Linked DNA regions of Homo sapiens: all the other regions are reported to be linked to region 2. The links are microRNA targets in miRTarBase. Many come from high-throughput screens and were not tested one by one. Region 2 holds a microRNA gene; each other region holds the end of a gene's coding sequence.

Region 1 (3,078 bases), not on the chromosome of region 2:
CTGGCTACGACGACTTCAACTGCAACATCTGGGATGCCATGAAGGGCGACCGTGCAGGTGACAGCTGGGGCCCAGGCTGGGTGGGCAGGGACCTGGAGCCCAGGCCCAATGGGTTCTGACTTCTCTCTTCTTCACAGGAGTCCTCGCTGGCCACGACAACCGCGTGAGCTGCCTCGGGGTCACCGACGATGGCATGGCTGTGGCCACGGGCTCCTGGGACTCCTTCCTCAAGATCTGGAACTAATGGCCCCACCCCCACTGGGCCCAGGCCAGGAGGGGCCCTGCCCATGCCCACACTACAGGCCAGGGCTGCGGGGCTGGCGCAATCCCAGCCCCCTTCCCCGGGCCACGGGGCCTTGGGTCCCTGCCCTCCCACCCAGGTTTGGTTCCTCCCGGGGCCCCCACTGTGGAGATAAGAAGGGGATGGAATGGGGGAAGAGGAGGAGCAGGAGGCCCTCATCCTTCTGCTGCCCTGGGGTTGGGGCCTCACCCCTCTGGAGGGCCGGAGGCAGGAGGTGGAAACCCCAGGGGCTGGCTTTTTTAAAACTGGTTTTATTTTAATTTTTATTATATTTTCAGTTTTTCCATAAAGGAGCCAATTCCAACTCTGTACCTGGTCTCTGCCCTTGCTGTGTTCTCCTTGTTTCTGGACTTTGTTGCCTGAGGGCTGCTGAGGGGGTGGATGGTGGGGAAGGTATGGGGCCTGCCAGGCAGCTGGGGCTGGGGGTGGGGTCCCCACTCTCCCTCAGAGCAAAGCTGAAGCCCCAGCCCAGAGCCTTCCGTCCAGAGGTTCTCGGATAAGCAGCCCTCACCATGGTTTCCCCCGTCAGGCTGCTGACCAGAGCCAGCCTGACCAGGCGGGCACTGCTCAGAGCTCCTAGTTCCCAGCTCTGTGCAGAGCCACTCATCCCCATGGCTCTCCCCAGATAACGAGCAGTGGAGGCGGAACGGGAGAACACACACCAAGTTTTATTGGGAGAAGGGAGTATTTACAGGAGCAGGTAAAAGAGAGGGAAGTCACACAGGGTGGAGAGGGGGCGGGGAGACTGTGGGTACAAGGCAGACAGGGAACACGGTGACCCCTGCACCCACCCCAACCCCAGGAAGGGCAGGGGAGCAGCGAGGGCCCAGGAAGACCGGGGCCGGGGAAGGACAGCAACAGGGTCTGAGTCCCTGGGCAGGGGGGCTCAGGGGCTTGTAAACATTGACCACTCTCAGAAGGGGATGGGGGTGGGAGAGGGCTCCCCCTATACTTCCTCACAGGGTTAAGGCCTCTCCAGGCTCATGGGCCCCCTAAGTCCAAAGTCTCTTTAGCTGGGGAGAAGAGACAGGAAGAGTGTCCCCCTTCCCCTGCATTGGCTGCGGCAGGGGTGGGGGGGTTACATTCAGTCACAACAGGAGTCTCCCCCACACCTGGCAAGAGGGAAGGGGAGCTGGGGGCCAGCAGCAGCAAACACTCCCCCCGGCCCGTCACCCCTTATTGCTTTAGAGAGAATATTGTCTTTTCAGGGACGCTAACACTGTGGGAACCAGGGAGAGGCAGGTGGGGGCCCCCCACCCCGAGGCCAGCTTGATCCCCCAACACTGACCTAGTTGCCACTTTGGTGCAAAAAAAAAAAAAAAAAAAAAAAAATCCAACAACAGAAAACCAAACACCATCTTTCTGGGACTAGATGGGGAAAGAAACGGGCCACTCCCCATGTCCCCAGGGCAGGAGGGAGAAATACATTCATGGAGGGAGGCAGTGGCGAAGCCTTGCCCTAATACTGCACTCTGAGCAATGAGGTCAATGGGAGGAGCTGGATGAGAAACCCAAAAGACAAAACTGTTACAAAACCCAAAATGGGCGGAGACGAACCCAAGTAGGGGACCGGGAATAAGAAGTGGGTGAGCAATAGAAGGGGCAGCCTCCTCTGACCCAGGAGCCGCACACTTCTCTTCACCCCAACCTTACCCAACGGTAAAAAGCGCATCATATCAGACCCGGAAGGCCACCTGCTCCTCTCCCATTTGGTCAGCGGAAGGGTCAGGTGCAGAGCTGGGTGGTCCACATCTTACGAGCTGGCTACAGGTTGGGGCCCCGGGCGGCAGCCCCTCTACTGCAACCCTAAGCCCAAAGCCACCCACTCCTTGCCTTTGAGGCCCCTCCTCCTGCCCCCTTCACTGGAGAAACAGCTCAGCCTTCTCTCTGCAGCCTCTGGAGCAATCATCCACCCCCGCCGCTCACAGGGGTGAGGCAGCTCAGGCAGGGGTGAGGCGGGGGCTTGTGGCCCAAAGAATACATTCACGTGGCAAGGCAGAGAGCTGGGGCTTTCAGGTTCAAACCCAGGGTGTCCCCCAAAATGGCAGCAGTGGGAGACGCCCCTCACCAGAACCAGAGTCCTGCTGCCCCACCCTGCCAGCCAGAGAGGTTGGCACGGCTTGGCCCCTCCCGTCTACTCGGCCAGCACAAGATGGCAGCCAGAGAGCTGGGGCCACTCGTCCAATTTGTGCAACTGTCCCCCAAAGCAGCGAAGCCAAGGGGCTACTTTGGCCCCACCCCGGACACCTCAGCCAGCCTCAGTGACAGGAGCTGCTCACAACAGGTCTGGCGGGTGGGGCTCAGACAGGCCTCCTGTGCAAACTGCTGGCCCCCAGCTTCCAGTTACCCCATGGCCCGCCTTCTGGGGGGTAAGTATGGCCTTGGGGGCCAGGCAGGACAGGTCCACGGGGCCTGTGTCCCCACTGCCCCAAAATAACAGTGTGTTTTTTCTTTCAGCCTCCTAACCATTTTTTTTTTCATTTTTCATCTTTTTTTCTTAAAAAAAAAAAAAAAACCAAAAAACAAAAACCTCTGTGGACCTTCCATTGTCACACCCACTATCCTCACAGCAGGAAGGGGTGTTTAGAGTCTAGTTTTTAACAATATTTTTGCCTCTCCTAATGTTTTCTTCAGTCGTTTAAAATTAAAAAAAAAAATAAAAAGAAAAACCCCCTCCCCCAGTCTGTAAAGTGCCTCGTGGTGGGTGAGTTAAGGTGCATCGTGTGTTTGTAACAAGTGCTGGGGACCCCGCCCCTGCCTCTTCCTGTGCTCTCTGC
Region 2 (3,078 bases):
AGAAGACTACCTCCAAAATATAAAATACTGAATAACATCATTATATGAAATTTCCAATTTGCTAGGAAATAATAGTTGTTTTTTAGGGAAAAGACAATTTTGGTCAGGCAAAATTCTGCCATAATATAAAATAATGATCTCCATTACTTTATAATATATATATTTTCCGTTGAGACAGGGTCTTGCTCCATTGCCCAGGCTGGAGTGCAATGGCATAATCATAGCTCACCATAGCCTTGTACTCCTGGAGTCAAGCAATCCTCCCACCTCAACCTCCTGAGTAGCTGGGACTACAAGGCTTGCGCCACTACAATAGGCTAATTTTTTTTTTTTTTTGGTAGGGATGAGGGTATAGCTATGCTGCCCTGGCTGGTCTTGAACTCCTGGACTCAAGCAATTCTCCCGCCTCAACCTCCCAAAGTGCTGGGATTATAGGCATGAGCCACTGTCCCTGGTCTATAAGACTTTTTAAATACATAATTCTAGTGCTGATGTAATTAATTTTTTTTACTTAAATTTTCTCTACATTTTCCTAAAGTATGTACAATTATCACTTTTAAAGCTGCATAATATGCCAAAATATTAATTTAACAGCATTCACAAATTGTTGAACATCAAGGTTGTTCCATTTTTCTTTTCCTCTTTAATAAGACTGCAATAAACATCTTTCTTCTAATAACATTAAACCTTTCATTTTTTTAATCTGCAGCTCCCACCACAGTGTCTAATTCGTATGAGGTACGTGACAAACATTAGCTAAACTGAATACACTTTTTAAAAACTGTTTTTCAAGCATCGTTTCCTAAGACTAGAATTAATGAATCAAAGAGTATGAACTTCTTATGGTTCTTATAACATAATACTTTCCAAAAGAATAATGTCATTTTATAATCCACAAGATATGAGTGTGTGAACTCGTTCATTGCAATACATGCCAGTATTAGAGTTTATCATTTAAAAAGCTTAATATTTTATTATGTATAATTTGATCTCTTAAAGTGCTTTACCTTGTAGAGAAATAACAATCCTGAAGTTATATTGTCATTACTTCCATTTCATTATTTAACAAAGTACAAAAAGACATGCAACTGTTTATTCTAATTGTGGAAATTCAATTATAAATATGTAAAAACTCTTTAAATGAACATACTCCAAAGTTTATTTCTGACTTGGAAGGTGGCATATTTTCACATTTTAGTAAAATTTGCTTGAGGCCATAATCTAAACCAACTTTGATAACTGCTGGATATAAAGGTAATCTTGTCCCAAAGAGCAGTGAACTCTATTCTCCTTTGAGGGGGTTTCTTTTGGAACAGATAGTAAGTAAAAAGCACTCTAAGAGAATATTTTAAAATAAATAAATTGCTAAGAGTTTACGTGTTTATGATGTCATCACAATTCCTGGTTGAACCAGAATTGCCTATCTATGAAGGAAAAGCTACATTGAGAAAAAGTAGTCTGAGTTTCCTAAAACTCAATTCAGAAATTCAAGTAAATTATCAAAGATTTGAATATTTAAGTCAATTGTGAGGACTTCTGTTTCTTCCTTTAACATCTTTAAAATAACGCATTTCAGGTAATTTTACATTTTTCCCCTTGGTGATTTCAGGAATCAAATTTGTACCTGATGAGAATTGGCATTATAAGCTTTTTAGTATTTTTTATTATATATTGACATGTTTAAAATTGGTAACTCACAGTTTTACCACAATTGGGTGATTCTGCTTTCCTGTCCTTTGATATTATCATATGTTAATAGTCAGAAAACTTGTGATAACTCCCAGTAGGGTTCTTTTTCACTAGCTGGGTTGCAGCACATTCATCACTTTAAAATAAGAATTTACTTTCTGAGATGGGTAAAGCACTGTGCTAGACTCCAAGGAACCATACATAGATGACTAAGACATGACTCCTGTCCTCAAAGAACTTACAATCTATTAAGGGAAGACAGACATGCAAACAAATAGGTATAATACAAAGCAGAATGTGCTGATTGTTAAAACAGAGGTACAAAACAAAGTTCTATAGGAGCACAGGATGGTTATATAGGAGCACTGGTTGGGGTGATCTGGAAGGCTGGGCCAGCGGAAAAGTAGTAGAAAACTCTGCCCCTTAGAAAACACAGCAGTGTTACAGCCCACCTGGGTTAGGGTCGAAGCCCCACTCCCCACAGAAGGTTTTCCTAAAGGAGATGGAGCCAGGGCCCTAACCCAGTTAGGTAGGTGATTCGTTGATTTCAATTATGAATGCCAACACTTTCTTTCCCTGGTGCCGATAAATGTGCTTTCACAAGTATTTTACTTTATTAAAAAGTAAATAAAATTTAACAATCTATTAAGTAACTTACATGAAGACGCAAGTTACCTCAGCCTACAGCATTAGAATGGCCTCAAGTGGTACTCTGATTGTACAGGACCAAGCAAAAAAAGACACCACTTCAGCATCTTACATGTGGTGCTCCCATAAATGTTTTGCTACTGATATCCTAGAAAGAAAGAGGAACCAGACAATTCCAGAGAAGGAGCCTGGGTATTATACTATTCATATTTTGCTGAAGATGCAATTATGTTAAGTTTTAAAAAATATACTTTAAAATATGTTAATGAGACAACAGGATTTGTTTTTGTCTTGTCATGATCTCAAGAAACAGCAGGTACACTGCCAGTTTCCACTAATTTCTAGGTATAAGAGGTAGACAAGATAACGTAACTGATATGTAATATTAAACAAGTACCACACGAGGAGTGAAACAACTAGAAAGAAGATAATAAATACAAACATGTTTAAATACAAAAGAACATAAAGCAAGTATCATGTGCACAGAAATAGAAACATTAAATTTGTAGAAAATTAAAGACAAAGTATTAGTTTCTACTGTTTCATTCTATTGCCATCTCATATACAGATCCCTCAAATTTCTCAAATCTGTAGATATAGTATTTCATTACGCTGTAGGAATTTTAAAACGCTTAACTTTATAATTGCTGTTTATAGACATCCTTAAAGAAGCCAAATTTTAATGAACAAAAAAGGAAACAATAAAATCTCAGTCATATCAACTGTATATAAATGTTTGCA
Region 3 (3,078 bases), not on the chromosome of region 2:
CACAGTTTCAATCCAGTTTGGTTCCAGAGCCTGCTCACTTACCAGGATGCTATATTGTGCTTCTCAAAAAATAGAAAGGGAAGAAGTATACTTTCACTCTGTATTTTGTCACACATCTCTTTTTTCTAGAGTGAGCATGTAATCTGAAAAAAATCTATTTAAAGCTAGCCAGTTTAATTTGACGTAAAGGTCAAGCATTTAATTTTATTTATTTATTTATTTAGAGACGGAGTCTTGCTCTGTCGCCCAGAGCAACCAGGGGTGACTCAATGTGGTACTTATTAGGTCTTTTTTTTTTTTTTTTGAGACGGCGTCTCACTCTGTCACCCAGGCTGGCATGCAGTGGCATGATCTTGGCTCCCCACAACCTCTGCCTCCCAGGTTCAAGCGATTCTCCTGCCTCAGCCTCCCGAGTAGTGGGACTACAGACACACGCCACATGCTCAGCTAATTTTTGTATTTTTAGTAGAGACAGGGTTTCACTATGTTGGGCAGGCTGGTCTGGAACTCCTGACCTCGTGATCTGACCGCCTTGGCCTCCCAAAGTGCTGGGATTACAGGCGTGAGCCACTGCACCTGGCCTATATTAGGTCTTATTCTTTAAAAAGTAAAAGCTTTTATTGGGCTGGTTTTTGCCAGAAAGCATCAACCTTGCTTATAGGACCAAATTTTTGCAACTCTACGCATAATCAGACCTGGCACAATGGCTCACCGCTGTAATTCCAACACTTCAGAAGGCTGAAGTGAGGATCCCTTGAGCCCAGTTTGAGCCCACAGTGAGGCCTTGTCTCTACAATTTTTTTTTTTTTTTTAATTAGCCAGGCGTGGTGACACAAACCTGTGGTGCCAGCTATTCAGGATACAGTTGGGAGGATCACTTGAGACCAGGAAGTCAAGGCTGCAGTGGGCCATGTTCACACCTCTGCACTCAGGCCTGGGTGACAGAGTGAGACCCTGTCTCACCACCCTCCCCTCAAAAAAAGCATAAGCAGGCCAGTCGCAGTGGCTCACGCCTGTTATCCTAGCAGTTTGGGAGGCCAAGGTGGGTGGATTTGCCTGAGCTCAGGAGTTCGAGACCACCCTGGGCAACACGGTGAAACCCCGTCTCTACTAAAATACAAAAAATTAGCCGGGCGTGGCGGCATGCACCTGTAATCCCAGCTACTCAGGAGGCTGAGACAGGAGAATCGCTTCAACACTCGGGAGATGGCAGTTGCAGAGATCAGGCCACTGCACGCCAGCCTGGGCGACAGAGCAAGACTCCATCTCGGGAAGAAAAAAAAAAAATTTATATATATATATTCTGCTAGCTACATCCCAGCCAAGTTAGCTTTTCTATCCTCCACCACTTGGATATGTAATTTCTTGATTGTGCTAGTGCCAAAGGCTCTCCTTAGTGGTCTGCTTGCTGTCCTTCCCACCTGTTTTCCACAGGACAACCACAGTGACATTCTGAAAAAGTAAATTTGATTAGGCAGGCCTTCTTTTAAGGACCTCATAAAGGTCATCCCTCCATCACCTTATTAATTCCTATTCGTCTTTCAGACCACCGCTGAAACTTCACTTCTACACAGAGGCTTTCTTTCCCAGAAACCCAGACCAGGTCAGTTACCTGCTTTATGTGCGTGTATCCCTATGTTCCTTTACTTCAAAACCCTTACTAGCGTCATAATTTTACATATCTTTTTTTTTTTTTAGATGGAGTTTCACTCTGTCGCCCAGGCTGGAGTGCAGTGGCACGATCTCGGCTGACTGCAGCCTCTACCTGCTGGGTTCAAGCAATTCTTCTGCCTCAGGTTCCTGAGTAGCTGGGATTACAGGTGCGCACCACCATGCCTGGCTAATTTTTGTATTTTTAGTAGAGACGAGGTTTCACCACGTTGGCGAGGCTGGTCTTGAACTCCTGACCTCAAGTGATCCACTGCCTCGGCCTCCGAAAATCTGGAATTATAGATGTGAGCCACTGCGCCAGGCCTGTAATTTTATGTATCTTTATGTGATTATTTGAATGTCCCTCTCTGACTAGATTATAAATTCTAAGGATAGTGTGTCTATTTTTGCTTACCTTTTATCCCCAGCACCTAGTCTAACACTTTACAAATATATATTAAATTAATATTTTGATAAGTTACTCAAAGTGCTACATAAAACAAAATTATAGAAAATAGTACTTTGGTAACTGTTTCGTTTTATCATTGCTTTCATTATTTCTCTGTTAACCTCAGTTTACAACTGAAAAAGACAAATTGTATATTATTCAGGCAATTTATTAAACATTACCTATAGAATATTATGATCTGTATTTTACAGAAGTTAAAAAGTGATGTATTAGTATTCATAACAACTGCTCCATGCAGGAGTAATAGAAGTCAACATTAAGCCCAACTCTATTTTCAGACCAACCATGCAACTTTAGATCAGAGGACACATGGGACTCTGCATCTTAATTCCTAAATTTACAGTCAAAGACATTTTCAGAGATAAGTATTATGAATTCAATAAGAATCTAAAGTAAGTTCTTAAGGCAAATAGCTATAAAAGAGAAGAATCCTTAGTCTCTCATCTTCTAAAAACAGCTTCACAAATAATTTGGAAAATCAGCCTAAAGGTAAATAGAAACTGCATTTCCCCTCCATTCTTGAAGCCAATCTTTTTCAAGAAATGACTAAGCAGCACCTGTTGTTGAAGACAGCAATAAAGCCTGAACCTGACACTCAAGCTTTGGTACAGGATCAGTTTTCTGGCTTGGACTGGTCAGGAGTCACTTCACTCAGAATCTTCATTAGTGATTTTAAGCGATTGTGCGTTAGCACTATCTTCTCTTTCAGCTAGGAAGAGAAATATATAGATATCAGGGCATCTTTTTTTATTTTTACTTATTTTAAGAGACAGGGTCTCACTCTGTTGCCTGAGCTGGAGTACAGTGGCACATTCATAGTTCACTGCAGCCTCAAGCTCCTGCTCTCAAGTGATCCTCCCACTTCAGCCTCCTGATTAGCTAGGACTACAGTCATGTGTTTTAAATTTTCTTTGTAGAGATGGGGGTCTTGCTTTGTTGCCCAGGCTGGTGTTGAACTC
Region 4 (3,071 bases), not on the chromosome of region 2:
CTTATGTAAATAATAGAATATAGATTTAGAGTGTTTCAGTTTGTGGAAGCCTCATTTTATTTAACCAATTTCCTATTAATGGACATATAGATTTTTAACAATTTTCTACTATTAAAATAATACTGTAATGAATATCACATGCAAACATCATACCACACTCGTCCAGTTATTTCTTAGGGTTCTTAACATGGAAGAGGATAAATATATATTTAAAATTTAGATATCTACAGCTTAACCCTCCCAAAGGATTAAACAACTTACATTCTCACCAAGGTAGTCCTTTTTTTGCCCTCACCCTCATTGACACTGGATGTTGTCAAATTTAAAAAAAATCCTTAACAATCTGATAGATGAAAAGATAGTTTAAGTATACTAAGGCAGTGTTTTTCAAGGTGTTTTTGTTTTTGTTTTTGAGTTGGAGTTTTGCTCTGTTGCCCAGGCTGGAGTGCAGTGGCGCGGTCTCGGCTCACTGCAACCTCTGCCTCCCGGGTTCAAGCGATTCTTCCTGCCTCAGCCTCCCGAGTAGCTGGGACTACAGGCGCGTGCCACCACGCCTGGCTAATTTTTTGTATTTTTATTAGAGACCGACTTAGCCAGGATGGTCTCGATCTCCTGACCTCTTGATCCACCCGCCTCAGCCTCCCAAAGTGCTGGGATTACAGGCGTGAGCCACCGTGCCCAGCTTTTCAAGTTTCTTAAATCCATGATCCATAGTAAAAACATTTTACACATATCTTCATACAAGTATATGTATATGTGGTATACGTACACACTATAGTTGTATATGCATTATAGCTGAAAAACCAGTTCAACCTTTCTACATGTGGTATGTTCCAAAAATTTTAAATGTCTTTCTAAAATGAGGCTCTTTTAATACGGGTATTACTCAGGCTGTAATAGTGGGAAAATATTTGTTATATGATAAAAGCAGCATATATCATTTCTGTGTAAATGCCAGTATGCTCAAGCCATTTATGCAGAGAAAAAAAGAAAAACACTGCATTAACATTTTAAGCAGTCCCCTTCCCGATTTGCTATTATACAAAGTTTGTTTCTTTTACATTGTAAAGTGTATACAACTTATAAAAAGACTATACTCAAAATCATAAAATACCAGTTAACTTAGCTTCTCAGTTTACAGTGGCCAGTGTGGTGTGCTCTAAACACTGCTGCCTGATCCCTCCCTCTGCTGGTCAGATTTATTACTATAAAGTACCAATCCCATTTGTGTTGTCCTCAATTGGCAATTATGAATGGCAGTGCATTAACCATTCAATTCTCACCACTCCATCCCCATTCTTCTACTTCTGGGTCCTTTTGTCCCTCCCTTTCCAGACAGCCCTTGGTAACCTGCTGCTGGGTAACTAAGGCATCCCACAGGTAGTGTTGAGGTGTTAGGTGATAGAGTAAACCTCTACCTTAATGCTATTAACAGGGTCCAAAAATCCAGTTGCATGGAACATGGAGTTATATTATTACATGGCTAATGAAAAGACAGGACTAAGTCTGTTATAGAGTATGGGACTAACCCCCAATTATATGTGAATTTGTGTTATCATATGGTTTCAGTGTACTGAGCTAAAAAGCACATTATCTGAGGTGCAATACAAAGGTTAAAGAGGTTAAAGATCCCCTTGAAGGATGTGCAAAATGTGAAGAAAAAGATGAACAGTGTACCTTGGACTGGACTTTCCATCTTGAGTTTAAGCAGAACATTGGATTTTGATGATACTGACATGAAAATTAAGCAGCAGCCTGGGTTGCAGGGGCTGGGACTTGATATTCCTTGAATTAGGATCACAATCAAGAGTAGAAGTTTGTCAGAATCTCCCTATCTCCCTCGTTAGTCAGCTGCTGCTACTACAGACTTAATGTTTATATGTCCCCAAAATTCATGTTAAATCCTAACCCCTAATGTGATGGTATTGGGAGGTGGGGCCTTTGGGAGGTGATTAGGTCATGAGAGCAGACCTCTCATGAACCGGCTTAGTGATCTTATAAAAGGGACCCCGGAGAGCTGCCTTCCTCTTCTACCACGTGAGGACACTGCAGGAAGACAGCTGTCTAAGAACTAGGAAGTGGGCCCTCACCAGACATTGAATCTGCGCTCCTTGAACTTGGACTTCCCAGCATCCAGAACTGTGAGAAATAAATTCATGTTATTTATAAACCAACCTGTCTATGGTATTTGTTGTAGCAGCCTGCAGCTCTCTATCACTCTTGTTTATAAGAGGCTGAAGTTTACTTTACCTCAGGCAGAGCTAAGCAAAAAAGATTACATCCCGATTACAAGATGAAAGTAAACAGAATTGACAAGAGAAATTTATTACTAAAAATAAAGCAGCTGAAGGTTTTCCCAGGGAAAACCATCACCACAGGACCTTCCATGATGAAATACGTTAGTATCTTCTTTACTTCTGAATTGCTGCCTTCTTTCATATACCCAAAATTTTAGTTTAAGTTAAATTAATCACGACAAAAACGATGTGGCATCTGATCCCTTCTTGTTCAATCTGAAGACTGAATTGGGCTACCCTGTGATGGAGACTTCAAGTGCTGCAGGTGAGTATCTACCAAGGGTTCATGTGTCAGGTACATGGGCTGGTAAGAAGACACAAAGGCTGCAGGCTGAAGCTCTGGGAGGTCCAAGGATCCTGGAGAAAACAATTCCTTAAGTTCCACTGCTGCTCGGGAGTCTGGGCAGACTGTTTTGGTCAGACATATACATGTCCTTTCAATCAATTCCTTAACACCCTTGCATTTGTCAGCTCAATTTTGCCTTTGTTAAGATAGGACAGATACTTTTACAATGAAAACTGGTTGAAACATTAAGTGACTTGCCTAGGGTTATATAGTATATTAGGCAAAGAGTGAGAATTTCAATTCCATTTTTTAACCCAGAGTTTTCCCTATATGACCCCAAAGCCTGAACCCTTGATCACTCATTTGTGGGAGGAACTCATGGAACACAGGCAGGGCCAAGGCCTTGACTTGACCCCACTGACTTCACTTGAAATGTTATTCCCTGCACAGTAAACTTTCCCCTGGTGTTCTGCTCCAGTCTTGCTTAG

The links. Region 2 holds the annotated microRNA hsa-miR-1296-3p (GAGUGGGGCUUCGACCCUAACC, at 2,145-2,166, opposite strand). A microRNA usually pairs through its seed, bases 2 to 8, with sites in the 3' UTR of a target mRNA and lowers its output. Matches are read on the target gene's strand: a 7mer-m8 pairs with bases 2 to 8, a 7mer-A1 pairs with bases 2 to 7 and ends in A, and an 8mer does both.
Region 1: miRTarBase lists GNB2 as a target of hsa-miR-1296-3p. Seed matches in the 3' UTR shown: 7mer-m8 at 254-260 and 7mer-m8 at 400-406.
Region 3: miRTarBase lists OIP5 as a target of hsa-miR-1296-3p. The part of its 3' UTR that is shown has no 7-base or 8-base seed match.
Region 4: the mRNA of TBRG1 is a reported target of hsa-miR-1296-3p. Seed matches in the 3' UTR shown: 7mer-A1 at 898-904.

The regions. Positions count from the first base shown.
Region 1 is chr7:100,678,558-100,681,635 of GRCh38, forward strand. GNB2 (G protein subunit beta 2) reads left to right here. Exons shown (of 10, transcript NM_005273.4): 9 at 1-57; 10 at 138-612. The coding sequence ends at 244. It overlaps GIGYF1 (GRB10 interacting GYF protein 1), which reads right to left. Exons shown (of 27, transcript NM_001375765.1): 27 at 950-3,078. Among named protein-coding and RNA genes, the nearest start is that of GNB2, 6.4 kb to the left of the region's middle. RefSeq lists an enhancer at 671-800.
Region 2 is chr10:63,370,825-63,373,902 of GRCh38, forward strand. It overlaps MIR1296 (microRNA 1296), which reads right to left and starts at 2,224; the gene lies at 2,133-2,224. The region is part of intron 2 of JMJD1C (jumonji domain containing 1C); the gene reads right to left.
Region 3 is chr15:41,307,022-41,310,099 of GRCh38, forward strand. It overlaps OIP5 (Opa interacting protein 5), which reads right to left. Exons shown (of 5, transcript NM_007280.2): 5 at 2,252-2,828. The coding sequence ends at 2,733. It overlaps OIP5-AS1 (OIP5 antisense RNA 1), which reads left to right. Exons shown (of 5, transcript NR_152821.1): 3 at 1,546-1,603; 4 at 1,699-1,820. Among named protein-coding and RNA genes, the nearest start is that of OIP5, 24 kb to the right of the region's middle.
Region 4 is chr11:124,631,676-124,634,746 of GRCh38, reverse strand. It overlaps TBRG1 (transforming growth factor beta regulator 1), which reads right to left. Exons shown (of 9, transcript NM_032811.3): 9 at 1-2,654. The coding sequence ends at 2,509. It overlaps SIAE (sialic acid acetylesterase), which reads left to right. Exons shown (of 10, transcript NM_170601.5): 10 at 1-1,634. Among named protein-coding and RNA genes, the nearest start is that of TBRG1, 10 kb to the right of the region's middle.